Homo sapiens: one gene and its partners. The protein of the gene in region 3 interacts with the protein of the main gene of each other region in a pairwise test. Each region holds a gene or a part of one and is shown on either strand. Other genes may lie near its edges. The genes, in order: SP2, ZYX, QRICH1 and HSPB8.

Evidence for each region.
Region 1: the proteins of QRICH1 (region 3) and SP2 interact in binary tests that used the Homo sapiens proteins (3 or more experiments, as listed by UniProt).
Region 2: the proteins of QRICH1 (region 3) and ZYX interact in binary tests that used the Homo sapiens proteins (3 or more experiments, as listed by UniProt).
Region 4: the proteins of QRICH1 (region 3) and HSPB8 interact in binary tests that used the Homo sapiens proteins (3 or more experiments, as listed by UniProt).

The regions. Positions count from the first base shown.
Region 1 is NC_000017.11:47,899,205-47,906,235, forward strand, and holds part of SP2 (transcription factor Sp2), read left to right. Parts: exon of another isoform or gene 1-1,174; intron 1,175-5,831; exon of another isoform or gene 5,832-7,031. UniProt on the Homo sapiens protein: Binds to GC box promoters elements and selectively activates mRNA synthesis from genes that contain functional recognition sites.
Region 2 is NC_000007.14:143,383,234-143,391,354, reverse strand, and holds the end of ZYX (zyxin), read right to left. Parts: coding exon 8,033-8,121; intron 7,266-8,032; coding exon of another isoform or gene 7,254-7,265; exon of another isoform or gene 5,970-7,253; intron 3,137-5,969; coding exon 3,016-3,136; intron 2,867-3,015; coding exon 2,697-2,866; intron 2,589-2,696; coding exon 2,410-2,588; intron 1,499-2,409; coding exon 1,378-1,498; intron 778-1,377; coding exon 673-777; 3' UTR 244-672; downstream 1-243. UniProt on the Homo sapiens protein: Adhesion plaque protein. Binds alpha-actinin and the CRP protein. Important for targeting TES and ENA/VASP family members to focal adhesions and for the formation of actin-rich structures.
Region 3 is NC_000003.12:49,083,391-49,091,511, forward strand, and holds part of QRICH1 (transcriptional regulator QRICH1), read right to left. Parts: intron 1-8,121. UniProt on the Homo sapiens protein: Transcriptional regulator that acts as a mediator of the integrated stress response (ISR) through transcriptional control of protein homeostasis under conditions of ER stress.
Region 4 is NC_000012.12:119,188,430-119,195,866, reverse strand, and holds the end of HSPB8 (heat shock protein beta-8), read right to left. Parts: intron 2,169-7,437; coding exon 2,009-2,168; 3' UTR 1,121-2,008; downstream 1-1,120. UniProt on the Homo sapiens protein: Involved in the chaperone-assisted selective autophagy (CASA), a crucial process for protein quality control, particularly in mechanical strained cells and tissues such as muscle. Displays temperature-dependent chaperone activity.

The DNA of each region.
Region 1 (7,031 bases), on a different chromosome or scaffold from region 3:
AAGATGCTCTTCCTCAATTATCAGCAGATCTTTTTTTGGCTAGCAGCATTCTCTTAGGAGACCTTGGGGTGGAGGAGGTCTCACTTTTCTGTCAGCAATCTATTGGAGCAAGGTGGAAAGATGAGTGAAGAGGGTAAAAATATGTGACATTTCTTTTTTTAAAATAATAGAGGCATAGTCTCTCTATGTCAGGCTGGTCTCAAAACTCCTGGCCTCAAGCAATCCTCCCACCTCAGCCTCCCAAAGTGCTGGGATTACAGGCATGAGCCACTGTGCCTAGCCAACATGGGACATTTCTAACTCGAGGGTATTGTCAGGCCATGTAGGAAAGGGAGCAGAGATTGCCCTTGAGGAGATGCTCCCAGGTGGCAGATTTGTCCTACTTGATAGATTCCAAAATGGAAAACGGATTTTTCTGCTGCCTCTGGGGACACTGAAAAAAGAACCTCCACATGAGTTCAGAGGCAGCACCGGCAGCTTAGGGGAAGTCATGGCTTCCACTGCGTGTCTAGGAAGCGCTCTTTCAGGATGCTCTGAGGCTGCCACTGGCACAGGGGAATACTGTGCTTCTCATCAGACTGGGCTGCGGGCTGATGTGCTCTTGGGAGATGAGCTCTGCTCAGGAGCAAGAGGTTGTGAAAGGGCTGATGTTTCTTAGGCTCCCCCAATGAGCAGCTCCAAGCAGTGCTGAGATGTCTAGGCCGTTTGTGTCACAGGACAAGCACACTTGCAGACCCAACTGTTGGAATCCTTCATTGGCATATCATTCCCATTGCTGCTGTTTGTCTCCACATCAGAATTGCTTGCTATACTTAGCCAGAAGCCCTGCCACATTGCAGTGCAGAGGCTTAGCTTTCTTGTTTTTGTTGCTGAGTGCTCTGAGATACCAGTTTGTCCCTTTGTGGTGATTTAGGCAGTTAGGTGGCCTTTGATCTCATTCACAGAGTAAAAATGGCTCAGGAGGAGCCAGCAGACACTAGCGTACACATTTCCAAATGTCATCTTTCTAGAGCCTTCTCTTTGGGGTTGTCACCTCTCCTATAGAATTTGGTAGAATCACAAAGTGGTCTCCAAGAGAGTGTGAATAGGAAGTAAGAGTGAGCAGGCAGGCCATGTAATTGGAAGTGGAATATCTCTGCTCTCAATTGATAATTAGGAATCTTCTTAGATCAGCCTAGAAGAAAACAGACCAAGACATTTCCCAGCCTCCAAAAAAGTAAATGGTAAGCCAGCCCTGTCTTCTCAGGGGAAATGAAATCACCACTCATTTCAGAAGCTGATTCTGGCCTGGGGCCGGGCTGGGTGATCACGCCTGTAATCCCAGCACTTTGGGAGGCTGAGGCAGGCAGATCACTTAAGGTCAGGAGTTCGAGACCAGCCTGGCTAACATGGCAAAACCCCATCTCTACTAAAAATACAAAAATTAGCCATGTGTGGTGGCACACGCCTGTAGTCCCAGCTACTGCAGAGGCTGAGGCACGGGAATCACTTGAACCCAGGAGGCGGAGATTGCAGTGAGCCGAGAGCGCACCACTGCACCCCAGCCTGGGTAACAGAGCAAGACTCCATCTCAAACAAAAACAAAACACTGATCATGGCCCAGGATAAATGTGGGGAGTGACTCACAAATAAATGTGCCAAAGCACATAAAGAGATTCTTTAGGGGAAAAAGTATATCTTGCTTCTTTTTTTTCTCCTGTTCTCTAAAATTCTGAGGCCCAGTATTCTTTGACAAAAAAACTTGATGCTGTTTCTTGGGCCTGCTTTGATCAGGTTCTCTTCACCCTATGCTGCCCCCACCCCCACACACTTCCAGAGTCCCTTCCAGTACAATGGGATGTGACGCAGTCAGGATGCAAACTAGCAAATGACAGTCACGTTTTGGAAAGAAGAATTAAGGGTGGAGACAGATAGGCGGTATTCAAATTCAAGTGCCTTCGTTATCTTTTTTTTTTTTTTCTTGAGACGGAGTCTCGCTCTGTCACCAGGCTGAAGTGCAATGGCGCAATCTTGGCTCACTGCAACCTCTGCCTCCCGGGTTCAAGCGATTCTCCTGTCTCAGCCTCCAGAGTAGCTGGGACTACAGGCACGTGCCACCACACCCAGCTAATTTTGTATTTTTAGAAGAGACGGGGTTTCACTGTGTTGGCCAGGATGGTCTCCAACTCTTGACCTCGTGATCCATCCGCCTCAGCCTCCCAAAGTGCTAGGATTACAGGCGTGAGCCACCGTGCCTGGCTTTGTTTTTTTTGTTTTTTGTTTTGGTTTTTTTTGAGACAGAGTCTCGCTCTGTCACCAGGCTGGAGTGCAGTGGTGCTATCCCGGCTCTGCCAATGCATGTCAATGGAGAGAAGCATTAATAATGCATATCAGTTGAGAGAAGCATTGAAATGCAGTAGTACCTGGTGTGTGGTGATGAGAGGCGTGCGCTTTGAAGTTTTTGGCCAGGAGCAGGACTGGACTGCACTGGCCCACATGTGAGGTGACTGGTGGGGTTGAGGGTTCCACCAGGGTCTGGGTCAGCTAAACCCAGCTGTGGAGTGGATCCTGACCTAGTGCCAGGATATGCAAATCTGCAGCTTTTCTCCTTTGGTTCCTAAACTCGCTTTAGGCCCTCCTGCTCTAAAGCCTCCAGGATTTATTCATTCACTTATTCAACAAATATAGATTATTAAGCACCTACCATGTGCCAGGGACTGGGATACATCAGTGAGTAAGGCAGAGAAGTCCCTGCCTTTAGGAAGCTTACATCTTAGTGGGAGACAATTAATAACTAATAGATATTTGTTAGACAGTGAGAAGTGCTAAGGAGGCAAAATGAGGATAAGGTAAAAAAAGGGGGGTGGCAATTTACATAGGGTGATCAGGGAAGGTCTCAATGATAAGGTGACATCCGAGTAAAACCCTGAAGGAGTGGGGAGGAGATTGAGCCTTTTTCTATCTGGGGTGAGGGGAGGAGGGTGAGAACTCAGCAGAGAGAAGAGCAATGCAAAGACCCTCAGCAGGGGCCATACTTGGTATGTTCAGGAACAGCAGGGAGCCAGCATGGCTAAAGCAGTGAGAGAGGGAGAGTGACAGGGCAGGTGAAAGAGGTTAGGTCACACAGGGGCCTTTTGTGTCACAATGGAGATTTTGGCTTTTACTTTGAGTGGGAGATGGGATGGTATTGGGGGCCTCTGAGCAGAGAAATAACATGGTTTCATTTAAGTGTGATGGGTCTTACTCTGGATGTGTTGAGAATAGACTGATGGGGTCAAGGTCAGAAGCACAGCTAGGAGGTTAATCCGTGGGAGACATGATAGAAACCTGGACCTAGGTGATGACAGAGGAGGTGGTAGAAGCAGTCAGATTGGGCATATATTTTGAAGATAGAGTGTTTGCTGTCAAGTGTAGGGTGTGGAAAAAAGATAAGGATAACTCCCAAGGTTTTAAGGCTGAGGAGCTGGAAAGATGAAGTTACTATTCATTCACTGCAGTGGCGAATTTTGAAGGAGTCACAGGATTAGGACAATATCGGGAGCACTGTTTGGGGCTAGTTAGATTTTTGTTTTGTTTTGTTTTGTTTTTTGAGATGTTGTTTTGCTCCTGTCACGCAGGCTGGAGTGCAGTGGCACAATCTTGGCTCACTGCAACCTCCACCTCCCGGGTTCAAGCGATTCTCCTTCCTCAGCCTCCCAAGGAGCTGGGATTACAGGCGGGCACCACCACGCCCGGCTAATTTTTGTATTTTTAGTAGAGACGAGGTTTCGCCATGTTGGCCAGGCTGGTCTCCAACTCCTGACCTCAGGTGATCCACCTGCCTCGGCCGCCCAAAGTGCTGGGATTACAGGCGTGAGCCACAGCGCCCAGCTGGGGCTAGTTAGATTTACGATGCCTATTAATACATCCAAGTGGAGCTATCAGTAGGCAGTTGGATATACCAGTCGAGATAGAAATGTGAGAGTTAAAATTATATAGAATCTGTATCTTACTGGTTTCTAAACCCACGAGACTAGACAAAATCAGCTAGGAAACAGGTGTAGACAGAAGAAAGGTCCTGAGACAGAGTCCTGGGGCAACCCAATCATTTAGAATTTGAGAGGAGAGGAAGAACCAGCAAAGGAGATATGGGAGAAGTTAGCCAGAGACTAGCAAGTGTGTCCTAGAGGCCAAGTAAAGAAAGTGTTTCAAGGAAGAAGAGGCCAGGCGCGGTGGCTCACGCCTGTAATCCCAGCACTTTGGGAGGCCGAGGCGGGCAGATCACTTGAGGTTAGGAGTTCGAGACCAGCCTGGCGAACATGGTGAAACCCCAACTCTATTAAAAATACAAAAAATTAGCCGGGCGTGGTGTCAGGCCCGTGTAATCCCAGCTACCTGGGAGGCTGAGGCAGCAGAATCACTTGAACCGGGGGGCGGAGGTTGCAGCGAGCCAAGACCAAAAGGAAGAGCAATCAACTGTCAGAGCAACACGGATGACGTGGTTTAAGAAGTAGCCATGGCCGGCGCGGTGGCTCACGCCTGTAATCCCAGCACTTTGGGAGGCCGAGGTGGTCGGATCACGAAGTCAGGAGATTGAGACCATCCTGGCCAACATGGTGAAACCCTGTCTGTCTCTACTAAAATACAAAAAATCAGTCGGGCGTGGTGGCACACGCCTGTATTCCCAGCTACTCAGGAGGCTAAGGCAGGGGAATCACTTGAACCCGGGAGACGGAGGTTGCAGTGAGCTGAGATTGTGCCACTGCACTCCAGCCTGGCAACAGAGCGAGACTTTGTCTCAAAAAAAAAAAAGAAGTAGGCCAGGTGCAGTGGCTCATGCCTGTAATCCTAGCACTTTGGGAGGCTGAGACTGGCGGATCACGAGGTCAGGAGATCGAGACCATCCTGGCTAACACAGTGAAACCCTGTCTCTACTAAAAATACAAAAATAAATTAGCCAGGTGTGGTGGCGGGCACCTGTAGTCCCAGCTACTCGGGAGGCTGAGGTAGGAGAATGGCGTGAACCCGGGAGGCGGAGCTTGCAGTGAGCTGAGATTGTGGCACTGCACTCCAGCCTGGGTGACAGTGAGACTCTGTCCCAAAAAAAAAAAAAAAAAAGAAGTAGAAGTAGCCATTAGGTTTTTAGCAACATGGAGGTGTCTGGTGGTGTGAACAGTTTTCGTGGCATGCATGAGGAGGGTGCAGCCTGGTTGGAGCAGGTTTAAGAAAAGCTAGCGGGAGAGAAATTAAGGACAGTAAGTATAGGTAACTCCTGCAAGGAGTTTTGCTTGAAGAGAAGGGGAGACATAATGGATCTTAGCTGATGAGGGAAATTTTAACTTCTTGATGAAATTGTAGACATACCTAAGGGTCATTGCCTGAGGCTGGGGGTCTGAGATGGCGGAGTGGGGGGAGATGGGAGGCTCAGTAAAGGGTTAATGTGGAGACAAGATCTCCATTCCTTACTCACCTTCTTGCTTACTTCGGCCTGTGGCATTAGCAAGCCACGGCCCAGAGTTGTTCTCATTGAAATGAAAGCCATTGAAATTTGTTTTACTGTTAATGGGCTCTTTTACCATGGTTTTAATTTATTTGTTTATTTAAAATTTTTATTATTATTTTTTAAAGACAGGGTCTCACTCTGTCATTCAGGCCAGAGCACAGTGGTGCAATCATGGCTCACTGCAGCCTCGACTTCCTGGACTCAAGCAATCCTCTCGCCTTGGCCTCCTAAGGAGCTGGGACTGCAGGCACACACCACCACACCCAGCTAGTTTGTAAACATTTTTTGTAGAGATGGCATCTTGCTGTATTGCCCAGGCTAGTCTTGAACCCCTGGCCTCAAGTGATCCTCCTGTCTCGGCCTCCCAAAGTGCTGGTATTACAGGCATGAGCCACCGTGCCCACCTTATAATAGTTATTATGATTGCTGAGGTTTGCCTCTCATTGAAATATTCAGCACAATTTGGAGTCTTTCACTACCAAGGTTGCTGCTTTCTTCATCCAAATGGATTCTCATACCCCATTTGTGAGCTTTCTTTGAGGTCCAACTTTGTTCTCTAAAACCAGCCAGGGCATGCTTTTCCCTCACCAGCTCTGAATTCTTCCAGGCTAGGCAACTGGAAAAGCCTGGGCTTAGAAACTGCTTTGTTGGCTTACGGCCCAGCTGAGCTGACCAAAATAGCCAAGAGAAAGACTGTTTGCACAGTGTGAAATTCCTCCAGGGGAAATACCATAGCAAAAAGCCAAGAAAGCCAGACCCACGATGGCAGGAACCCACAGGCAAAAAAAGCCGAGTTACCCCCAAGGCCTGGGTTGTGGAGATGGAGCCTAGTTCTCTCCAGAAGAAAAAGCTTCCTAAAGCCTACTGTTGTGGTATTTCTGTAGGCGCGTTTTCTCATTTGCTGGGTCTCAAGAGTAGCATTCTCAGTGAAAGGAACAGTCGAACAGCCTGCAGCCTGGTGGCCAGGGCTCAGAGGTCTCTCTTCCTGTTACGTGCTCTCCCCAAGTCAGGCCTAGAAAGACCGTGGGACAGGGACACACTCCCAGCTCTGTGTTGATGGGACAGTGCCGAAGGGTGCCTGGAGTATGCACTGGCAGGTAGCAGGGTCACCTGCCCCAGATTTGAGGTGGGAGGAGGTCAGGAAAGGCTTTCGCTGAGTGAGAGTATAAATGAGCTCTAAAGGACAGGAGCTGGCCGGGCAAATGGGAGAGAGTGTGCTTCAGGCTCCAAGTGAGACAGGGTGGCGTGTTTTAATTCCAGAAATGAAAAACTGAAGTGTGTGTTGGGAGAGTTGGAAGGGAAAGAGGTCAGGAGGGAGGACCAGGGAGGGACAGGTTGTTCTGGCCTTTATAAGTTTATCACAAGAGCATCAGGGAACAATTGAGGGGGTTAATTAGGAGAGTAGCTGGATGGGATTTGCACTTTAAAAAGAGCCTTCTAACCAAATTGTGGAGGCTGACTAAGGGGGAGGCCAGAGGCCAGGAAGCAGTTTTAGAGGCCGTAGGCAGTATCTCAGGTGGATCATGGTGATGAGGATGGGGAGCCTGGGTACACTATAGGGAGATTTGTC
Region 2 (8,121 bases), on a different chromosome or scaffold from region 3:
AGGCTATCGGTGCTGCTTCTGCCCACTTTCAGGAGAACCCTGCTCTGCACCCCAGAAAACCTCTTTGTTTTAAAAGGGAGGTGGGGGTAGAAGTAAAAGGATGATCATGGGAGGGAGCTGAGGGGTTAATATATATACATACATACACATATATATATTTTTGTAAATAAACAGGAACTGATTTTCTGCCTCCATCCCACCCATGAGGGCTGCAGGCACTACAAAAGAGCTGACTACTGAGAATTCTGGAAAACAAGGTTTTTTTTTATTTGTAGCTATAGCTACAACTTGGCAGCATGGGGGAGGGTGGGAATGTCCTGGAGGGTCTCCCAGCCCTCCGCAAGCAGAGTACAAAGGCTGCTCGGGGGGCCGGCCGAGGGCGCGGGTGCAGCAGTGAAAGCAGCAGCACTAAACCTGGTGCCCCCCTCAGGTGGGGTGTCTGGAAGACGGTGGGCAATCCCTGCAGGATGGGCGAGGACCAGACCCCAGGGCGGGGATCCTGCATCCCTAGACCATGTTGGGTCCTGGGTCAGGGCACCTGGGATGCTAGGGAGGGGTTGGAAATGGGAGGGGCTAGACATCAAAACAATAACTGAGGTGGGGGCAGGTGGTCTCAGTGTGGGTGGTCCACAATGGGGCATGGACTGCGGTCTGAAGAGGGCCTGTCCTCACTCAGGTCTGGGCTCTAGCAGTGTGGCACTTCCGACAGAGCACGTGACCGTCCAGGGGGAAGCAGCCATTGTCATCTGCCTCAATCGACAGGGGCTTCCCGCAGTCCTGGGAAGAAGGAAGGGTGAGGGGCACTGGACCGGAAGGCCCCTGCTCTGCTCCACCCTACCCCACCCCATCCAGCTCCATCTTGGAATTAGAAAGATGCTTCATGGCTCAGAGCTGGTGTCATCGCTTTTTCCAGCCACACCCAACTCCCCATCCCTATCCTACTTCCAGTCACCCACTAGGACCTTCCTGCAAGAGGGCAAGCAGTGGGTAGAGCTGCTCCCAAGGTGCTTGCTCCCCTGCCCACCACCACCCTAATAAAATAGAGGTTGGCTCACCTCCATTCGAAGACCTCTTCTCTCAGCTCCTGTTTCCCCATCCCCTACCACGGTAAAACACCATGCCCTTCTTCTCTCCTATTGGCTTGTCCCATTTCTTGGCTTATCCATGACTCAAAGTGACCTCAGAAGCCCCACAGCCCCATTTCCTGCAGTGGCAGGAAGCATTCTGGCAGGACAGATGGGGTGCCACCATGAGCCACCCTCAAAATCACAGCCCTGTTTCCTGAATGCTGGTGCTTTCCACCTCCCAGTTAGTAAGCAGCATCTCCCGCCACCTCCTGGTCAGAACCTGCCCAAGGAGTCCAGAGGGATGGCTGACCTCACACTTGTAACACTTCATGTGGAAGTTCTTGTCCAGGGCGACCACTCGCACAGTCTCATCTCGGCCAGGCTCAGGCATGATGGGCTCAGAGCAGACGGAGCACCTCGGGGCGTACTGCCTGGAAGGGGCAGAAAGGGCCAGCCGAGTTAGCCAGGGCTTTCATCCCCGGTGTGCGCACGCATAAGCCAGGTTGGGCAGCAAGGAAGCAGACTTCTCTGCCCTGCATCTCCAGGTGAAGGAAGCTCACCAGAAGGGCCTAAGAGTGAGACACCATGACTGGCCCTCATCAAAGGGAATTTCCTGCCTCACCAGTCACTCTCCCAAAGCAAGGGAGCCTCCCACACACCTGCCACGGTGTTCTCTCCCACTCGACCCTTACTGTCCCATTCACACTGCAGCTCCTGCAGAAAGCCAGCCCTGAGGTACCCCTCCCATCCCATCCTGGGTCCCTGACCCTCACCTTCCCCCAATCCTCCCACCCCCATGCACGTTGCCTCTGCCCTGACTGTCTGGCACTGTGGAGGGATGTGAAGTTGTGGCCACCCCAGATGGAATCCTGAAAGTGTTTACCCAAACACTCTGTCAGAGGTGGGGGTCAGATTCTGCACTGTTCCCACAGCTGCACTGAGGTTCTGCGGGTCAGCCTGAAAAAGTAGCCACCTTCTAAACACTATTTCTGGGGAGAAACCAGAAATCCAAACAGCTGATCTCCAAAAGAACTTTTAGAACCCAGCCTGTGTGTGAGATGAAGTCACTCCAGCACACTTCACGAAATGCTGACATACACCCACAATAAGCTTCAGTGATCAAGGGCGAGGGAGGGACCAGACAGCAGCAGGACTCGATGCCCAGGCCTAAGGCCCCTGGACAGCTACATCCCGATGACTTGGTCCCTGCTGTTTACAGACAGGACATGGGACCAGAAAACACCACCAGGGGTTTGGGGCTGTCCTGAGGCTAGGGTAGCAAGCAGCCGGGCTACCAGACCAAGCACGCCGGGAACCCAGAAGGCAGGTGGCAGGTCCTCACTTGTGGTAGTCGGGGACACAGTGGGGCCGGTTGGCCTGGTCCACGATGAAGGAGGTGCCCTCCAGGGGGCGGGCGCAGACCACACAGGTGAAGCAGTGCGGGTGATAGGCCTTGCCCGTGGCCCTCAGCATGCGGTCAGTGATGGGCTCCCCGCAGGTGTTACACTTCTCCAGGGTGTCCTGAGGAGGCAGCAGGAGGAGGTTGGCAGGGAACCGGCACCCCACAGCAAGCTTCCAGGGCCCGACTGCCCAGCACAGCCCAGCACAGCCCAGCACAGCCCGACTCACAGTGTAACAGCCCTCGCAGTACGGCGCCCCCTCCAGACTGTAGAACTGCTGGCCCTGGAGCTGCTGCGCACACTGGTGGCAGGTGAAGCAGGCGATGTGGAACAGCTGCCCTAGAGCGCGGACGGCTGGCTGCGCCCGGGCCAGGGGTTGATGGCATCGGCCGCAGAGTTCTGGGAAGGCCAGAGAAGACAGCAGTAAATAGAAGGAAGTATGTAGAGCTGCGAGGGATCAGCCAGCTCAGATAGGGAGTGGAGCCACAGCCCTGGCCCCCACCGTGATGTGGGGGCAGGGTGGGGGTGTCCCGGTGGGGTGGGCTCACCGTTGACAGCCACATTCTGCCTCTGAGGATGCTCCATGTCCTGCATTAGCTGCTGGGTCAGCTGCTCCAGCTCCTCCACCTCCTTCAGAGTCAGGGGCCCTGGGGCCCCAGGGGAGCGCACCTGCAATCCCAACATTTTCCTCACACTCTAGAGGGCTGCTGCCTCCAAGAACCTTCCCAGGCCAGCCTACCCGGCTTCTTCCGATGAGGCTTAGCTCCCAGCTCGTGTCCCAGATGCTCAGGCTTGACCCTTAAAGCTTCTCCCTCGTCCCCCTACCCCCGCCATCCCCAGCACCACACAAATAACAGGGGAAGGGACCTAAGCCTGGATCTCGTACAGCAAGACATTTCCACCCACTCTGCCCAAACCCCCTGAGCAGTCACAGACAGGCCAGAATGACTGGGCGGACGGAGGCCACGCACACAGCAGCTCGGGTCACTGAAGCACCGGACACTCCAGGGCCACGCATCAACTCCACAGAGCATGCTCGGACATCGCCCCCATGGGACAGGGGCACGCAATGGCGTGCACACACGCGCACACACACCTACCCGGCCTGCCTGCTGCTGAGCAGCCCCTGTCAGCGTGAGGATACAACACAGGCAGGAATTGCAGGTTAAACCCACTGAGCTGTCTGCAAGAACCCAGCCCCACCCCCACACAGAGACCCTGTCCCTCGAGTGAGGGGCCTCTGAACTACCTCACTCAGGTCCCTCCCCAGCAGCCTCAGAGAAGGTCCAAAGGCCACCCCCTAGGCCAGCCCAACCTTCCCATTTAGGGGATCCCGGGGACTGGAGTGGGGGGTGGATGTTAAGGACAGCGCTGCCAGTAACCCTGAGAGGTAACCCTGAGAACTCCGGGAAGGGCTGTCTGACCTGCATCAGCACTGCCGGGAGACACGCCCACAGGAGCAAGTGCACTGGGTGGGTCTTTTCTATGTCTGGAAAAGCCTACCCAGGACTGTGGCCCCATCACTGAGTGTGCTACCTGCAGATGCCTTCATTCCCATAACACCTGGAACCTCCAAAGCCCCCCTGCTACCTCCTCCCATAGCCCCTCTCCCCTCAGCCCTGGCTTCACTGCCCCTCACCCCGACCCCCATCTGTACCCAGAGTTGCGTCCTTTCTGCCCAGTGAAGCATGCGTCCATATAAGTCCAACTCTCCAGATCTTAGCCATTTTCCCTTAAGATCTTAGCCATCTTCCCTTAAGATCCTACCATCTCTTAACTGACTCGTTCCCTGGAACACTCACTTCAACTTTGTCTCCTCCAATCTTCCCTTCCTGGCCTCTTGGGGACACAGTGAAGGGGCTCAGTCAGTCCTTGCTCTCCAGTGCCATTCTAAATGCCTGGCTCCTCCTTCAGAAGCACAGAATCCTCATCTGCATCACCTCCCATGGGTATCCCCATTCATCAGGACACTCTATCCAGAACTGCCCCCTCTGCCAGCCTGCACCAATGCCACCGCTTCAAACCAAACTTCCGTCCATCTCAGTCATCATCCATCATGGGACATCCTTGACCTCAGATTTACCTCCAAGTCTCTTGCCAGCCATTATCTGCCTCTCCTCTTCCCCATCCACACCTACTACATGAACCCAGAAAAGCCTTAGTTGCCCCCACCCGCAACCCACCCCTGGACTTTGTCCACCATGCCCCAGCCTGGTCCCATGACCATCTAACTCCTACAGGGTTCACTGTCCCTCCGGGCACCTGCAGCCACCCGCAGCTATCCGGCCCAGTCTCCAACCCCAAGTCACACCACCACCCTCTTCCTGTTTCTGCTTCCAAGCTGCAGAAAGCAGTGGAGAGATCACTGAACACTGCAGCGTGAGCTCACAACACTGCAGCACCCGCGCGACCTCCAGCCCAGCCTTCCCCACAGCAGCCGTTCCAGACCTCTCCATCTCCTGAGCCCCCACCTGCTTCGTCCCTTTGCTCGCACCGTGACCTCACCTCCCACATGGTTGAGGACATGGAAGCCAGCCAGCTTAAGCTCCCTCATCGTCCTTCCTATCCACGCTGCAACCACTCTGTCCTTGCTGTCTGGTATGCCTCTGGGGGAGGAGACATCACCAAGATCTCCTCCAGGGACCGAAGCAGCCTGCCCCTGCTCTCCCACAACACTCACCCTCCATCACCTGCTTCCCCGGGTTACACACGTACCTGAGCCCTTCTCCCCTAACTTGCAAAAACCACATATGCTACACCACAGACTCAAACACACACACCCTCACACATACCCACATACCACTCACATGCACACACACATACCAGACCACACACATACACCACTCACATACACTCACACATATACCACACCACACACACACACTCACACATATACCATACCACACACACACACACCACTCACATTCAGATAATACCACACCAGGCCAGGCGCGGTGGCTCACACCTGTAATCCCAACACTTTGGGAGGCTGAGGCAGGCAGATCACTTGAGGTCAGGAGTTCGAGACCAGCCTAGCCAACATGGTGAAACCCCATCTCTACTAAAAAATACAAAAATTAGCCAGGTGTGGTGGAACGTGCCTGTAATCCCAGCTACTTGGGAGGCTGAGACAGGAGAATCGTTTGAGCCAGGGGGGCGGAGGTTGTAGTAAGCATGGGCGACAGCCTGCACTCCGTCTCCAAAAAAAAAAAAAAAAAAAAAAAAAAGATATACCACACCACACGCTCACACACACCACTCACATATATACACATACGCCACTTGTGTGTATTTGTAAGAAAGTATGTATGTGCACCTTCACTTGTGCAATCACACACCATACACATCACAGCCACACTCACACATGCACACACCTTCACTCACACATGCACACATGTACTCATATACACATACTTTCACACAATCACACTACACACATCACACGCCACTCATACATTCATGCTCACACATGCACATACACTCACATACACCATACCCACACCCACACACTAACACACACACACACGCCACTCATATATTCACATATGTGTATATATACACACACACACACCACTGACACACAGTCCTTCCCTTAGTCCTTTAAGACCAGGCTACACCAGCAGCCCCACTTCTCACCACCCACTCTCTCCTCAACTCCTCACATTGTGTTCCCACCACAGGGCACAAACAGGCCATCCCAAGACCGCTGATGATTTCCCAACAGTCTAATCTCTAGCCTTGAGTCCTCACTCCCTCAAATACCCCACTGAGGAGCTCAGCTCTCTTCTCCAAGTGCACCCTGACTCTCCTCCTGACTCTTCTTCCCGCACCTCCTGGTCCCCGCTGTCTGCACTCCCTGGGAAGCTCCTCCGCTCCGACCCTGACCCTCCAGCGTCACAGTGTCACTGTGCCCCACTACCATGCTAGACATCTCTGGCCCTCTCCTGAAACCTAGCCCTGGATTTCTAGCTGAATGACGGCCCCAGCTGAAAGTCCTCCTGGGACCTGTTGCTCAAAACGTTGACAGCTGGACCCCTCCTCTTCCCGTCCAAACCATTTCCCCTTCTGGACTTCTCTATTTTGTCAGCAATCCTGCCATCCGCCCACACCCCATCTCCAAATCGTGCTGGAGACTTTTTTTTCCCTCTTCCCCTCACCCTTGTCTTCCAATTGCTCATCCCTTGCTAAGTCCTGGAGGCTGTGCCTTCCCAACAGCTCTAGCACACAGCTCTCACATGCACGGTTTAATTTTCATTGCAGCTAACATTACTATTGCCCAAGAGTGAATTCACACCCATCACTGACCTCCCTCGAATACACATCTCTGCTGGTGAAACTTTCCAGAAAGCTTCCAAAAACACTGCTTTCACCAGCCCTCCTGACCCACCCCACACCTACTCAAAAATCATGAATGCCTCTCCAGTGCTCAAGAGCTCCTTGGGTGAGCCACTTCACCTCCTACACCCTCCAGCCCCGCTTGCCTCTCCAAGTATAGCTCTATCATTTTCCTACAGGAACCTTCCACTTTCTGTTCTCCAAACATCCCTCTCCTCTCTGGATTCTTACGTCCTGCCCATCCTTCGAAGCCTTTCCTAATTTGACTCCCCGAGTTGACTCCCTGGTCTGAGTGCCTGTGACTCACAGGATTCTGCAAAGCTCACTGGCCCTTGGCATTTCTTCCTATGCTGTGTCCGAGTGTAGGTAGACATCAACACTATCAGTGGACTCTGGATGCTTGGACTAGATGACCATCAGGGTCATCTTCGTCACCAGAAATTGGACGATCTTATTTCCTGAACTAGAAGGCAAGAACCATTTTGTAATTACAGCTTTTCTATTTTGAGCATTCCTGTACTAGATACAGAACCCAACACTCTCTAGGTATTAGCTCACCCAATCTTCACAACCACTGTATGGAGTAGAGAATGTTAAAGATTGAGAAACTGAGGCTCAGGGTTCACCTAACTTGCCCAGTCTAAGGACTTGGGAGAAGCTGAGCCAAGAATTCCATTCCAGGTCCATCTGACACCTGAAGGCTGAGCTTCTTGCAGAGATCTCTTCCCTCCCATGTCCTACCCTCCTGGGCACAGAGCACAGTGCCTGGCACGTGGTGGATGCTGGCTCAACCAGTGTTTACTGGGGCTGTCTCTTACCTCCAAGCCCTCAGGCAGAAAGAGTGCTCAGAGGAGCAGGGAGATTAACTCAAGACCCAAGAATGGGAAAAACCAAGGTGGAACTGGTGATCTCATCCCTCCCTTTAACTTTCTGGGGTAAAGGCACAAGGAAAGGTCCACCAGATCCTCCTAATTCAGAGCCCATGCTCTCTGCGCCGTCCCAGCCAGGCCCCACCCAGCCCCACACCCAGCCAGGCCTCTCCTCCAGAGGAGCATTTTCCTACCATTGTTCCACCAGGCTAACCCCAGAGGATGAAAATTCCTATCCCGCCACCCCGCAACCCCCGTGTCCACCCTGACTCTCCAATCACCTTATGCTTATGCTCTGGCTCCTGACCCAGCCCCGCCCCAGTGCCCTGGTACCAAGCCTTGTCCTATCACCATCCCTCACCTGGTTTTGGTTCTGAGCCGGTGGGGGCACGGGGTGCTGCTTCTCCTGCACTCGGGGCTTCTCCCTCTGCTGGGCATAGGTGAAGCTGG
Region 3 (8,121 bases):
AATCACCAGGTTGCCTAAAGAGGGGTGAACCACCCCAGGTTGGAAATGGGGCAGGTCAAAACTTCCATACTGCAGTAGTAGAATCCTGTCTGTGGATAGCCACAGCACTCCAACCTGGGCACCACAGTGAGATCCCATCTCTTAGAAATAATAGTAATAATTTAAAAGACAAACAAGCTTGAGGTAGGAAAAATTCCATAAAACCATTAGAAAATATCAATACTAAGCTTGGCATGGTGGTTCTCGCCTGTAGTCCCAGCTACTTGGGAGGCCGAGGCAGGAGGATAGGATGGCTTGATCCCAGCAGTTTGAGCCTGCAATGAGCTATGATCATGCCACTGCACTCCAGCTTGGGTGACAGAGTGAGACTCCATCTCAAAAAAAAAAAATTAGCCAGGTGTGGTGCTGCATACCTGTAGTCCCAGCTACTTGGGAGGCTGAGGCAGGAGAATCGCTTGAACCCAGGAGGCACAATCTTGGCTCACTGCAACCTCCGTGCCCCCCAGGTTCAAGCGATTCTCCTGCCTCAGCCTCCCGAGTAGCTAGGATTACAGGCACCTGCCACCGTGCCTGGCTAATTTTTGTATTTTTAGTAGAGGCAGGGTTTCACCATCTTGGCCAAGCTGGTCTTGAACTCCTAAACTCATGATCCACCCGCCTCAGCCTCCCAAAGTGCTGGGATTACAGGTATGAGCCACCGCACCCGGCCCACATCCGGCTAATTTTTATATTTTTAGTAGAGATGAGGTTTTGCCATGTTGGCCAGGCTGGTCTCGAACTCTTAACCTCAGGTAATCCACTCGCTTCCACCTTCCAAAGTGCTGGGATTACAGGCATGAGCAACCACACCCAGCCTAAATTCTTTTTTATTTTTATTTTTATTGAGACACAGTGTTGCTCTGTCGCCCAGGCTGGAGCGTAGTGGCACGATCCTGGCTCACTGAAACCTCCGCCTCCTAGGTTCAAGCAATTCTCCTGCCTCAGCCTCCAAAGTGGCTGGGATTACGGGCACCCGCCACCATGCCCAGCTAATTTTTGTATTTTAGTAGAGACGGGATTTCGCCATGTTGGTCAGGATGTACTCAAACTCCTGACCTCAAGCGATCCACAGCATCGGTCTCCCAAAGTGCTAGGATTACAGGCGTGAGCCATCACATCCAGCCAAGATTGTGAGACCAGCCTGGCCAACATGGTGAAACCCCATCTCCACTAAAAATACAAAAACTAACAGGGCATGGTGGCAGCCACCCGTAATCCCAGCTACTCTAGAGGCTGAGGCAGGAGAATTGCTTGAATCCGGGAGGCGGAGGTTGTAGTGAGCTGAGACTGCGCCACTGCACTTCAGCCTGGGGAAAGAGTGAGACTCCACCTCAAAAAATGATAAAAAGGAATGCTAACAGTAGTTATGCCTAGATGATGGAACCACAGAGTAATTAAGTTTCTTCTGTTAAACACTCTTCTGAATTTTCCACAAGTGGTATTAATCTAAGGCTCACGCCTGTAATCCCAGCACTTTCCGAGGCAGGCAGATCACCAGATCAGGAGATCGAGACCATCCTGGCTATCACGGTGAAACCCCGTCTCTACTAAAAATACAAAAAAATTAGCCGGGTGTGGTGTTGGGCGCCTGTAGTCCCAGCTACTCGGGAGGCTGAGGCAGGAGAATGGTGTGAATCTGGGAGGTGGAGCTTGCAGTGAGCCAAGATCGTGCCACTGCACTCCAGCCTGGGCGACAGAGCAAGACTCCGTCTCAAAAAAAAAAAAATCATCTTTTTCTACACAGTGGCTATAGTGTAGTAATGGTAAGACACATAATTCTGGCTGATCATAGTATGATTTTCTTTCAAAATCTGAAAGAAACTAAACCGGCCGAAAGAGGTGGCTCATGCCTGTAATCCCAGCATTTTGGGAGGCCGAGGCAGGCGGATCACCAGGTCAGGAGATCGAGACCATCCTGGCTATCACGGTGAAACCCCATCTCTACTAAAAATACAAGTGGTTATAGTGTAGTAATGGTAACAGACACGTAATTCTGGTTGATCATAGTACGATTTTCTTTCAAAATCTGAAAGAAACTAAACCTGCCGAACGAGGTGGCTCATACCTGTAATCCCAGCACTTTGGGAGGCCGAGGTGGGTGGATCACCTGAGGTCAGTAGTTTGAGACCAGCCTGACCAACATGATGAAACCCCGCCTCTACTAAAAATACAAAAAAAATTAGCCAGGTGTGGTGACACGTGCCTGTAATCCCAGCTACTCGGAAGGCTGAGACAGGAGAATCGCTTGAACCTGGGAGGTGGAGGTTGCAGTGAGCCAAGACCATGCCACTGCACTCCGGCCTGGGCAACAAGGGCAAAACTCCATCTCAAAAAAAAAAAAAAGAAAAAGAAACTAAACCATAAAATACCAAAAACTTGTACAAAATAATGAAGACTTAACTTCAAGATGCTGCACATAAGACACAAAAGTTGAGCCTTCGTAATAAAGAGAAATGGAGAAACTTCTAAAAGAGACAAAAGATTCTTAATTAGCTCCAAGTAAAAGACTTAGTAAGAAGCAATAAAGAAATTAATTAAAGTATTTCTGAAAAACATGCAGCCATGAGGATATCTGAGTGTTCCCAATTTCTGGGACTCTGATGAGACTAATAATGAAAAAAGAAAATACTCTAATGCTCTTGGGGTGTATGAGGTCTGTAAACAAGCATTTACTTCTAAACGCTTTTAAATATAGCTGCATTGTAAAAAAAAAAAAATAAGTAACAATAAAGGAAAGCCAGCCCTCCCTTAAACAGACCCTGGACATTTTTGCTGGTATAAAATCAAATTGTTCACTGGTATCTCCTCTGTATCTCCCTCTTTTTCTTTTTCTTTTTTTTTTTTTGAGATGGAGTCTCACTCTGTCGCCCAGGCTGGAGTGCAATGGTGCGATCTCGGCTCACTGTAAGCTCCACCTCCTGGATTCACACCATTCTCCTGCCTCAGCCTCCCAAGTAGCTGGGACTACAGGCACCCACCACCACGCCCGGCTAATTTTTTTGTATTTTTAGTAGAGACGGGGTTTCGCCGTGTTAGCCAGGATGGTCTCGATCTCCTGACCTCGTGATCCTCAGCCTCCCAAAACTGGGATTACAGGTGTGAGCCACTGCGCCTGGCTCCTCTGTATTTCCTCCTACTGGAGCTTAGCATAGTGCCTGATGCACAGCAATTCTTCACTACATGAGTTATTATTTTTATTATTTTATTATTAGAACATAAGATGGTACCATGGACAAAGGTTACTCCAAAACAACAATCTATTACATTTCTATAGGTCTGTTTGCTAATTTTTTTCTTTTTTCCGTTTAGGTACCAAGGGAAGATCTTATTGCAATCACTGTTTCTTGGGTTTCTTATCCCTGATACCTCTTTTGGGCCCCCTGTATGGCTCTGCAGAGTGAGTCTTCAATCCGTGATGGACTAAAAGAAGTCTGAACTGCCTCAGAACCTTACCTCTTCCTTGGGCTTTGAGGCCCCTCAAGGTTCACATCTACTCCAACAATGGCTCTTCATAGCTTAGTCCAGTTTGAATACATTCATATGGGGCCCGGTGCAGTGGCTCACGCCTGTAATCCCCAGCACTTTGGGAGGCTGAGGTGGGCGGATCACCTGAGGTTGGGAGTTCAAGACCAGTCTGGCCAACGTGGTGAAATCCCATCTCTACCAAAAACACAAAAATTAGCCAGGCGTGGTGGTGGGCACCTGTAACCTCAGCTACTCGGGAGGCTGAGGCAGGAGAATCACTTGCACCCAGCAGCCGGAGGTTGCAGTGAGCCGAGATCGCGCCACTGCACTCCAGCCCGGGCAACAAGAGCAAAACTCTGTCTCAAAAAAATAAAATAAAATAGGCCAGGCACAGTGGCTCACGCCTATAATCCCAGCAGTTTGGGAGGCTGAGGCAGGCAGATCACAAGGAGTTTGAGACCAGCCTAGCTAATATGGTGAAACCCTGTCTCTACTAAAAATACAAAAATTAGCCAGGTGTGGTGCCTGTAGTCCCAGCTACTAGGGAAGCTGAGGCAGGAGAATTACTTGAACCCGGGAGGCGAAGGTTGCAGTGAGCCACGATCGCACCACTGCACTCCAGCCTGGGCAACAGAGCAAGACTCCATCTCAAAAAATAATAAGAAAAATAAATTTAAAAAAAATAAAAATAAAAAAATAGGCCAGGTGCAGTGGCTCATGCCTGTAATCCTAGCACGCTGGAAGGCCGAGTCGGGCATATCACGAGGTCAGGAGTTCAAGACCAGCCTGGCCAACATGGTGAAACCCCATCTCTACTAAAAATACAAAAATTAGCCAGGCGGGGTACCATGCGCCTGTAGTCCCAGCTACTCGGGAGGCTGAGGCAGAAGAATTGCTTGAACTCAGGAGGCGGAGGTTCATCTCAAAAAAAAAAAAAAAAAAAAAGAACAATGTCTTCTATGCTTCTTTGAAATAACTCCATATGTTTATAAGACAGACATGACTCCTTAAAATGGAAATTGATTTTTTTTCCATGTGAATATATTCATTTTATTTCATTTATTTTTTTTTTTTTGAGACAGAGTCTCACTCTGTCACCCAGGCTGGAATGCAGTGGCACAATCTCGGCTCACTGCAAGCTCTGTCTCCCGGGTTCACGCCAGTCTCCTGCCTCAGCCTCCCAAGTAGCTGGGACCACAGGCGCCCGCCACCACATCCAGCTAATTTTTTTGTATTTTTTAGTAGAGAGAAAGTTTCACCGTGCTAGCCAGGATGCTCTCGATCTCCTGACCTCATGATCTGCCCGCCTCGGCCTCCCAAAGTGGTGGGATTACAGGCGTGAGCCACCGTGCCCGACCAGAATTGACGTATTTCTATTCTTTTGCCTGGGTTTTGTTTCTTTGTATTTTTATTTTTTTGAGACGAAGTCTCGTTTTCTCACCCAGGATGGAGTGCAATGGCATCATCTCGGCTCAATGCAACCTCCGTTTCCCAGGTTCAAGTGGTTCTCCTGCCTCAAGCCTCCCTAGTAGCTTGAACTACAGGCGCACGCCACCCAGCCCAGCTAATTTTTTTGTATTTTTAGTAGAATCGGGGTTTCACCATATTGGCCAGGCTGTTCTCGAACTCCTGACCTCAGGTGAGGAGTTCATTTCCACGGCCCCCCTCGACCTCCCAAAGTGCTGGGATTACATGCCTGAGCCACTGCACCAGGCTTTTGTCTGTTTTTTTTTTTTTTTTTTTTTTAATGAGACAAGGTCTTGCTCCACTACCCAGGATAAAATGCAGTGGTGCATTCATAGATCCCTGCAGCCTCACACTCCTGGGCTCAAACAATCCTCCTGCCTCTGCCTCCCGAGTAGCTGGGACTACAGGTCCATGCTACCACATCCAGCTATTTTTATTTTTCTGTAGAAATGGGGTCTTGCCATCTTGCCCAGGCTGGTCTCCAACTCCGGGGCTCAAGCAATCCTCCCACCTTGGCCTCCCAAACTGCTGGGATTACAGGCATGAGGCACTGTGTTCCACCCATATTTCGATTTTTAAGGATACTAGCCAACTGCAGGGTTTGTGATAGAAGTTATCCCATTAGGCCATTTATATGCCCCATGCCAGAGGAGTCCCTGGTTTAGGGGCATTTTCATCACGGTTCTATTTTCTTTTTTTCTTTTCTTTTTTTTTTTTTAAATGGAGTCTCGCTCTGTCCCCCAGCTTGGAGTGCAATGGTGCCCTCTCAGTTCACTGCAACCTCCGCCTACAGGTTCAAGCGATTCTCCTGCCTCATCTTCCCGAGTAGTTGGGATTACAGGCGCCCATCACCATGCCCTGCTAATTTTTGTATTTTTAGTAGAGACGGGATTTCACCATGTTGGCCAGGCTGGTCTGGAACTCCTGACCTTAGGTGATCCGCCCGCATTGGCCTCCTAAAGTAATGGGATTACAGGCATGAGCCACTGCACCCGGCCATGGTTCTATTTTCAATCAGGAAACTAAAATTTGTATTTTTCCCAAATATTGACGGATTGTAAACTGGCACAACCACTTGCATTATCTAGTGAAGCTGAAAATATCCATTCCACGAACCTGAGCAATTTTACCCATCAGTATATATGAAGGAACTTTTTTTTAAACAAGGGTACTTAATACAAGAATGTTCACAGCAGCATTGTTAAGAGCCAAAAGCTGGAAGCAACCCAGATATCTATCAATAGTGGAATAGATAAATACCTTATGGTGTATTCATACAACAGAATACTACATAAAAAATGGAAATGAACAGCTGCACACAATGTGAACAAATTTCAGAAACATTATGCTAAGACAACATAATACAGCATGACTCCATTTATACAAAACTCATAAGGAAACAAATCTAAACTAGGTTAAGGGCTACGGAGATGGTAAATGTAAAAAGAAGAAGAATGTTATCACAGAATAACAGCTGTCTGTACGGCTTGAGAAGCTGTGATCAGGAAGGGACCCACGAAGGGTTCAGAGATACTGGCATCGTTTTATTTCTTGAAAAAGTAGTACTTTCGCCAGCATTTACTTTATAATTTGTCATTAAATTGTACAGAGATCGCCTAAATTTACATGGATGGATAAATATTTCACAAATTTTAAAACAAAGAAAAACATGGGCGGGCGCAGTGGCTCACGCCTGTAATCTCAGCACTTTGGGAGGCCAAGGTAGGCAGACCACGAGGTCAGGAGTTCAAGACCAGCCTGACCAACATAGTGAAACTCCGTCTCTACTACAAATACAAAAAATTAGCCAGACATCAGCCGGGCACAGTGGCTCACGCCTGTAATCCCAGCACTGTGGGAGGCCGAGGCGGGCGGATCACGAGGTCAGGAGATCAAGACCATGCTGGCTAACACGGTGAAACCCCGTCTCTACTAAAACTACAAAAAATTAGCCGGGCATGGTGGCAGGCACCTGCAGTCCCAGCTACTCGGGAGGCTGAGGCAGGAGAATGGCGTGAACCCAGAAGGTGGAGCTTGCAGTGAGCCGAGATCGTGCCACTGCACTCCAGCCTGGGCAGCAGAGCGAGACTACGTCTCAAAAAAAAAAAAAAAAAAAATTAGCCCAGCGTGGTGGCGGGCACCTGTAATTCCAGCTACTCCAGAGGCTGAGGCAGGAGAATTGCTTGAACCCGGAAGGTGGAGGTTGCAGTGAGCCGAAATCGTGCTACTGCACTCCAGCCTGGGCGACAAGAGTGAAACTCCATCTCAAAAAAAAAAAAAAAAGAGAAAAGAGAAAAAGAGAAAAATATTAGCCTTCTGACACAGCCACCATTTCTACCTACAGTTTTGCCCTGGCCTGAAGAGTGAGACCAAAGGAGCACTCCTTCCCTCTTTCAGCAAAGGAAGAAATTAATCTACCATTTCTTCATGCAGCCACATCAATTTAATAACAGAAATCACAATCTAATGTAATAACTAGGAAAAAATACAAAGGAAGCATTTAAGTGAAGTCTGAAGAGGACTTAAAACATCTGGAACAAAATGCAGTACAACAGAATAACAGAAAAGAACAGGTAATAGGCCAGGCGCGGTGGCTCACGCCTGTAATCCCAGCACTTTGGGAGGCCAAGGTGGGAGGATCCCGAGGTCAGGAGATTGAGACCATCCTGGCTAACAGAGTAAAACCCCGTTTCTACTAAAAAATACAAAAAATGAGACAGGCATGGTGGCGGGAGCCTGCAGTCCCAGCTACTCCGGAGGCTGAGGCAGGAGAATGGCGTGAACCCAGGAGGCAGAGGTTGCAGTGAGCCAAGATTGCACCACAGCACTCCAGCCCGGGCAACAGAGCGAGACTCCGTCTCAAAAAATAATAATAAAAATAAAAAGAAAAGAACAGGTATTCATGTAACACCTAATTCTAAGGCTAATTCAGAAATCAGAGACCCTTACAGATCAAGAGTGGCCATTTAAAAAGCAGACAAGAAAGAAATATGGCACATGAAGTATAAACCACAACTAATTAAACTAAAAGAAAGCATATCCAAAAAAAAAAGCATATCCAAAGTAAGGAAAGACATCCCTGATTCTGAAGCTGCCTTAAAGAAAGGCAGCCACATCCAGAGCCCCTGACTTTGGTTACTTTCCTAGAGC
Region 4 (7,437 bases), on a different chromosome or scaffold from region 3:
AACCCTCGAGGACCCAGGGGCACAGGCTCCCAGATGACAGCCCCTCTCTGAATGAGCACCTAGGCAACACAGTCCGGGGCTGGGTGTAGCAAACCTGTCAGCAGCTGCCTCCTGGGACAACCACCCCCTTACATGCTATCTACCAGAAAAATGAAAGCTCTTCTTACCCCATCTCCCAGGCACCCCCCAGCAAGGGCTCTGAATTCTAAAAACAGCAAAAACATTCAAATGGTTACATGTGAAATGCTGTCCCTCATCTTTCTGTCTCAAAGATAGCAACTGCCCCTCCCCCAGCTCCCCCCACATCCCCCAAACAATTTCTGTGCCAAAATGAAGAGGAGGCCCCAGGCCATGGGGGGCTCCTGGCCACGAGGGGCTGTTGCGGCGGCGCCAGGGCACAGGGTGGGCGAGACACAGCAGAGGTCCTGGCAGCGCGGCCCAGGTCCCCGGCATCTCCTCCCATGGGTCGCGGTTACTTATACAGGGAGAGCGACTGCATTCGTTTTCCTGACAATGTGGCATCATCTTTTGCTTTCCTTTCCTCTTCCTTCTTCCGGGCAGCCTCCTCCCGCTGTTTCCGGATGATGGCCAGCGGGCCAGGTCAGCCTTGGCTTGCTCTGTCTTCCCGGCCAAGTGCATTTTCATGTAACGCTCTTTTGCCTTCTGCTTCTCAATCTCTTCTCGTTCTCTCCTCGAAAGCTCCTTTGGCCCATCCAGATACAGTTGTGTGACCTTTTTGGTTGTCTGTGCCACCTGGTTGGGGTTCTCGATGTTGAAGAGCCCTTCAACGCCTTTGCGGTTTTGCTGGTAGTCATCTTCTTCATCCTCACTCTCATCTGAGTCTAGAGATTTCTTCTCCTTTTTGGGGTCACCTGCAGCCCCATCTCCACCTTCTTTTTGCTCCTCTTCTTCCCTGGCCTTCTGCTTCTCAGCCTGCAGCTGTACGTCGATCTCCTCAGGGCTCCTATACTGCCTCGCCCAGCCTTTGTGGCCTCCCTTTCTCCCTCCTTTAGGCATCGCGGCTCCGCGCAACATTACTTTAAGCCACAGCATTGCTAACTGATGTTGTATATCTAGGTGGTATTACATTTAGTTCCTCATTAAAAGAACCACACAAGGCTAAGAACGTCAGCTCCTTTATTATTATTATTATTATTATTAATTATTTACTGTTATTTACCCCTAAACAACAGCATAACTCAAATAATAATGACACACACGTCCCGCCCATATACACAATACCACTAGCCTATCTGTCAGGCTATCTGGCCTTTGCTTGGTTCCTGATGGAGCTGTCTGGAGACAGCTCCCTCTGTAAAAATCCCGACTTAAACACAGGGGACAGAAGAAAGGGGGGACCTAGGTCAGATCATAAACTGACAGGCTCCCAGCGTCCTTAGGGAGTGCTAATGTGGAAACTTTGAGAACGTGCTGGACACATCTGGGCAGAGGGCAGAAGGCACTGTTTGTTTTTATGTGGTTGATGGATAAATTCCATATGGGGATATAAGACCTGTATATCACCCATTTTAGGCCAGGCATGTGGAAGCACAGTGGGGTTAGCTACTGGGTTTCATTAACCAAACCATGCGGCATGGTTTGGGAGCCATGGGAATCGGGAGCCCAGAGTAGGAACCTGGGTGATGGGGGAGGTCCCCAGAGAAAAGTAACCCTTGCATTCACTGCAAGTAAGATACAACGTGAAATGTTAAGTCCCCTTTTATGTGTTTTGCAACTATAGAATGTGCAACATTTTCATCAAGATAGAAAAGGTAAAGAAAGCAAAACTAGTATTTTGGCCTAACACAACCAAGCATGATTTGCCAATTGCGCTATCCTGTGGAGAAATCTACCACTACACTATCCAGGGAATCTGTGGTCAGTCCTCACCCCCGCACCCTCTAACATTTTACTTGCACTAAATCTGAGTTCAGCTAAAGTAATGTATCCTGGAATCAGAGAAGCCCTAGGGTTGGGGACAAAACAAGGATGGGCCAGTACTGGCATCTCAGGTACAGGTGACTTCCTGGCTGTCCTGGGGAAGCTCGTTGTTGAAACTGCTCTCTCCAAATGTTGAGTAAGGAGGGACCTGGGGAGCTTCGATGATCAGCAGACCCTCTGGGGAAAGTGAGGCAAATACTGTCACAGGATCCACCTCTGCAGGAAGCCTAGGAGAAACACACGATTTTATTCATTTATTGTTGTTAATATTGCTTAAACATTCTTTTATTCACTTGAGAGGAAATATTTTTGATAAGAGCTTAGGCTTTGGGGACATACAATGTTGGGTTTGAATCCTGGCTCTACCCCTTTCTAGCTGTGTGGTCTTGGGAAGATTATTCAGTTGCTCTGAGCTTGTTTTCTCATCTGCAAAATGAGGATAATAATACTGAACTTGTAGAGTATTTGAACTTCAGAGTCTGAGTATGCTTTGCAAATGGTAAAATGCTGTTTGAACAGTAGTTCTTAACTTAAAAGAGAGCTGTGGCCCACATATTTGGTCCCAGGTTGAAGTCATCACCTTAATACCCACTACTGACCACAATTACTAGCAGAAATGGCACCACTACCATCCCTTTATAGAGCGCAAGTAAGGTGTTATCATAACAGGCAACACATTTTCATCTGACATGTGCTTGCTGGAGAGTGCTTCACTACAAAATGCATTAATGGTGATGCAAGCACTAGGTACCTTGGTGGATAAAAGGGGCCAAGCTGGCCACATGTAGATTTCAGATGGCAACATACTCGATGGTATTCAAAATAAGCCTTGATTTTGTTCATACCCTAAGTATCTCTGATGTGGTTTGGCTGTGTCCACCTAAATCTCATATTGAATTGTAGCTCCCATAATTCCCATACGTTGTGGGAGAGGCCTGATGGGAGATAATTGAATCATGGGTAGGGGGCAGTTTCCTCCATACTGTTCTCATGGTAGGGAATAAGTCTCACGAGATCTGACGGTTTTATAAGATTTTTTGCTTGGTTCTCATTTTCTCTCTTGTCTGCTGCCATGTAAGACGTGCCTTTCACCTTTTGCCATGATTGTGAGGCCTCCCCAGCCATGTGGAACTGTGAGTCCATTAAAACTCTTTTTTTCATATATATATCAATTATGTAGTCTCAGGTATGTCTTTATCAGCAGTGTGAAAACAGACTAATACAATCACTTAGCAGATCATTATTATCTTGTTCTTCCTTTTATTTTTTTGGGACAGAGTCTCACTCTGTCACCTAGGCTGGAGTTCAGTGGCGCGATCTTGGTTCACTGCAAGTTCCGCCTCCCAAGGTTCAAGCAATTCTCCTGCCTCAGCCTCCTGAGTAGTGTGGATTACAGACACCCACCACCATGCCTGGCTAATTTTTGTATTTTTAGTAGAGATGGGGTTTCACCATGTTGGCCAGGCTGGTCTCGAACTCCTGACCTTGTGATCCACCCACCTCAGCCTCCCAAAGTGCTGAGATAACAGGCGTGAGCCACCGAGCCCAGCCAATTATCTTGTTCTTAAAACTCAGTTATAGACAATACTTGGTTGGAGTATTGTAAGAGGATGATTAAGAGGTAAGAATTAATATGCCCATTCTACAGATCACTAAACAGAGACTTGGGGGAAATCAAATGACAAGCTCAACAAGTGAGAAAGCATCGAAGATGGAATTTCTAAACCTAAATCTGGTCCAACTTCTAATAAGGTATTTTTATGATTTTTGGATTGCTTTGGGTGAATGAGACTATTGAGAATTTGGTTTCTTCAACAAACTATTAAAACTGTGAGGACATATTAGTGATCTCATTGGGGTGCCATTATTTTTTTTAACCATGAAATCCATGACCTTCTGAGTACTTTCTATGTGCCAGGTACTTTAGCTGAATCATATCATTTTGGTGTTAACAATAATCCCACCAGGCAGATTCCATTGCTATCCCCATCTTACAGATGAGGAAATTGAGACTCAGAGAAGTGAACTGCTTTGCCCAAGGTTGCTCAGCTGGCAAATGGCAGATAGGAAATGGAATTGGAATCCTGGTCTCCAAACTCAGAGTATCTGACCATGATGCTCTCCTGCCTCCCCCAGCACCAGACATTTGAAAGAAGGACTATGGCAGGAAGGACCGGCAGTTCAATCAAAATCTTTCCACTGATCCCTGCTGGCTCTGCCTATTGTAAATACGAGGGTCTTGATGAAAGAACCAAGGCATGAGGTAAGCCCATTCCTGATCATAGGCAGGACTCCTTCTGGAGGGGCTGGGGAGTTTTTTTTTTTTCTTTCTTTCTTTCTTTTTTTGTGGGTACAACAACCTGTAGCCACATGAGCCGTATCTACCCAGGAGATTCCTTGCCAGATTGGAACCATGGAGATGAACAAGGCTGCTTCTGGGAAGCCCATTTGGAAGAAAAAGAGGGAACTAGAAAGCTGCCAAGTCAAGCTTTTGAAGCGGAGACAAAGTCAAAAGTTTAGACCTCCCTCCCAATGCTGGGGATGGGCTGACTGTTTAACCATGTGCACACCAACCCAGTGCACACCAGGTACAGTGTGACAGGGTGGCTATGGCCTAGAGCATGGGTTTTGCAGGCAGGCTGACGTGCATTCAAATTCTGACTCTTCCTGACCACACAACATGGGGCTGGTGATCTTGACTCTTTGAACCTGTTTCTTTGCAGAAAAAAAGGGGGCAATAATAGTACCCACCTCTTAGGGTGGAGTGAGAATTACGTTGCAGTCTTTGACCTTACATGTTGGCATCTTGACAGCAAGATGGAGTATCATACAAATTGCAGGATCATTGAACCACAGAGTATCAGGGCCCCAAAGGATCTTCCTGATTGTCCATGACAATGCTCTTATATTACTTATGGGGAAACTGAAACTCAGAGAGATAGACAAGTCCAAGGTCTCTAACCAAGTGACTTGTATTTAAACCCATTTGGTGGGAAAGTAATTCCTCTTCAGTTCTCTTTCAGTGCTTCTACTTACATCTGAAGGAATGTCTCTGCTAAGTACTAACATGCCTTTAACGCCTTTAGCCTCTATCACTTGCTACCTTCCCTTTTTAACAATGAGAGAGCTGAGGCCCTTAGGCAGGCAATATTATCTAGTTAGAATTTAACCACAGTTTGCTTTCATTGGATTTATTTCATGATCGCTTTCCTCAGTGAACATTTCAGTGATAAGAATTTAACTTTATCAAAAATGAGATGATCTAAAAGAAAAAAAAACCTTTAGTAAATCATGGTACAGCAATGTAAGCATATAAGGCAAAAAATAGTGAAGATGGGATGTGAATGACGGTATTGCAAATGACTGTAATTTGGTTTCCCCTAACCAAATAGGAAGATCATGGACTTTGAAAGCTGAGACCCAAGACCTCTCCCTCTCCTCCTTATTCAGTCCAAATGGGGCTTTTCACACAGAGATGGATGTGTTGAGATGAATTTCCTTGCCATGGTTAAGGCAAACAGCTGCAGCATCCTGCCTGGGTGGAAATCTCCAAGGATCTCAGCCTGGCTGAAGGAATCTCCCTGTCCTCTAATGACTGGAGTTTTCCCTGGGAGAGGAGGCAACGAGGACTCCTGAGATTGGTCCAGAGGTGTCCCAGACCCCAGTTCGACTCCTAGGTGTCTAGAGTCTGGGCAGAGCCAGGAGCTCCCAGGAGTCCCAGCTGCTGGAGTGTGAGTCCAGCCTTGTGAAGCCTTTTCATAATATTAATTCCCATGGACCAAGCCCTGAGTCTGTATTCCATGCTTAATGCGTTATACACATCCTCTCACTCCCATCACAACCCCTCCATGCAGGGATGTGGGAATGGAAGGTCAGAGCAGTTAAGCAAGTTGCCCCAAGTTACCCACTCACTTTCTCATGGAGCCAGGACTCCCTGCACCCGGAGCTGAGATTCAAAATATTTAACAACTAGTGCAGCTGGGCACTGACCATTCAGAAGGGATGGGTGCATGTCATAGTGATGGAGGAGGGTCCTGGGACCCTTTAGTTGTTGGAAGGTGGAGAGGTTTAGAGGGTCCTGGGGACAAGATCAGAGTGACTGGGGTTGGCTAGGGAGGGCTCAGGGCAATAGCTAGCCAATATTCAGGGGTCCCCATCCCCCGGATCATGGACCGGCACCCATCTGTGGCCTGTTAGGAACCAGGCTTCACATCAGGAGGTGAGCAGCAGTTCAGCCAGCATTACTGCCTGAGCTCCGCCTCCTGTCAGATCAGCAGTGGCATTAGATTCTCATAGGAGCTTGAACCCTGTTGTGAACTGTGCATGCGAGGGATCTAGGTTGCATGCTTCTTATGAGAATCTAATGCCCGATGATCTGAGGTGGAACAGTTTCATTCCCCAGTCCATGGAAAAATTGCCTTCTACGAAACTGGTCCCTGGTGCCAAAAAGGTTGGGGACCACTGAATATTTTAACAACTAGCCCAGCTCAGCAGCTGAGCACCAGCCTGGAGCAATTTCAGGCATTTCTCATCAGGTTACTTCCAGCAAGCTATCTCCCCTAAGGCCTTGGAGCATGTGAAATACACACACACACACACACACACACACACACACACACACACCCCTTTTAAGATGATTAATTCACTTCTTTCTTACACAGTCCCTTTTACAGCTATGCCCTGCTTGTGACTCCACCCTGAGACCTCATTTGAGCCTTGACATCAGCTTCCCCCCACCCCCTGCCTTCCTTCCTCTCCCTCAGCAATGTTTAATCTGCTTGCTAAACCAGGGAGAGGTGTGGGGCACGGAGATGCCAGGCAAGCCAGCAAACACGAAGAACAAATGGTTTGGCGTTTGCCTTATCAGGAAGTGTCCACAGGCTTCCAAGAACTGCAGAGGCTGTGGGAGGGCCAGGGACGGACATGTGGGGGAAGAGACAGGAATGTAGAATCCCAAGCTGGAAGAAGCCTCAGAATTCAGCTAGTGTGATCTCTCCACACACAGAATTTCTTTGCAAAGGCTGATGGAAAAGTTAAGAGTCAACAATAACAATAGTAATAATGAACTCCCACTTATGAGGACCTACGCTGGGCCATGACCTTATGTCACTTTCAGCCAGGAACTCTGCAAGGCTGGAATCAGCATCCCTTTCACAGATGAGGAAACAGCATTCCTTGCCCAAGGACTGAGCATGGAACTCAGAGGTCAGGGATCTATTCTGGGCCCTTCTAAATTCTAGCTGTAAAGACCTTGGGTATGTCCTTTCACCTGTGGGAGACTTAGTTTCCCTGTATTGCAAGGAGGGTCATGTCTCCTCTCCGATGCACACTTTTGCTGCAAAGGCTAAATGCAACGATGGCTTGGAAAAGAGTTTAGGGGCCAGGCGCAGTGGCTCACACCTGTAATCCCAGCACTTTGGGAGGCAGAGGCGGGCAGATCACTTGAAGTCAGGAGATCAAGACCAGGCTGGCCAAACATGGTGAAACCCCGTCTCT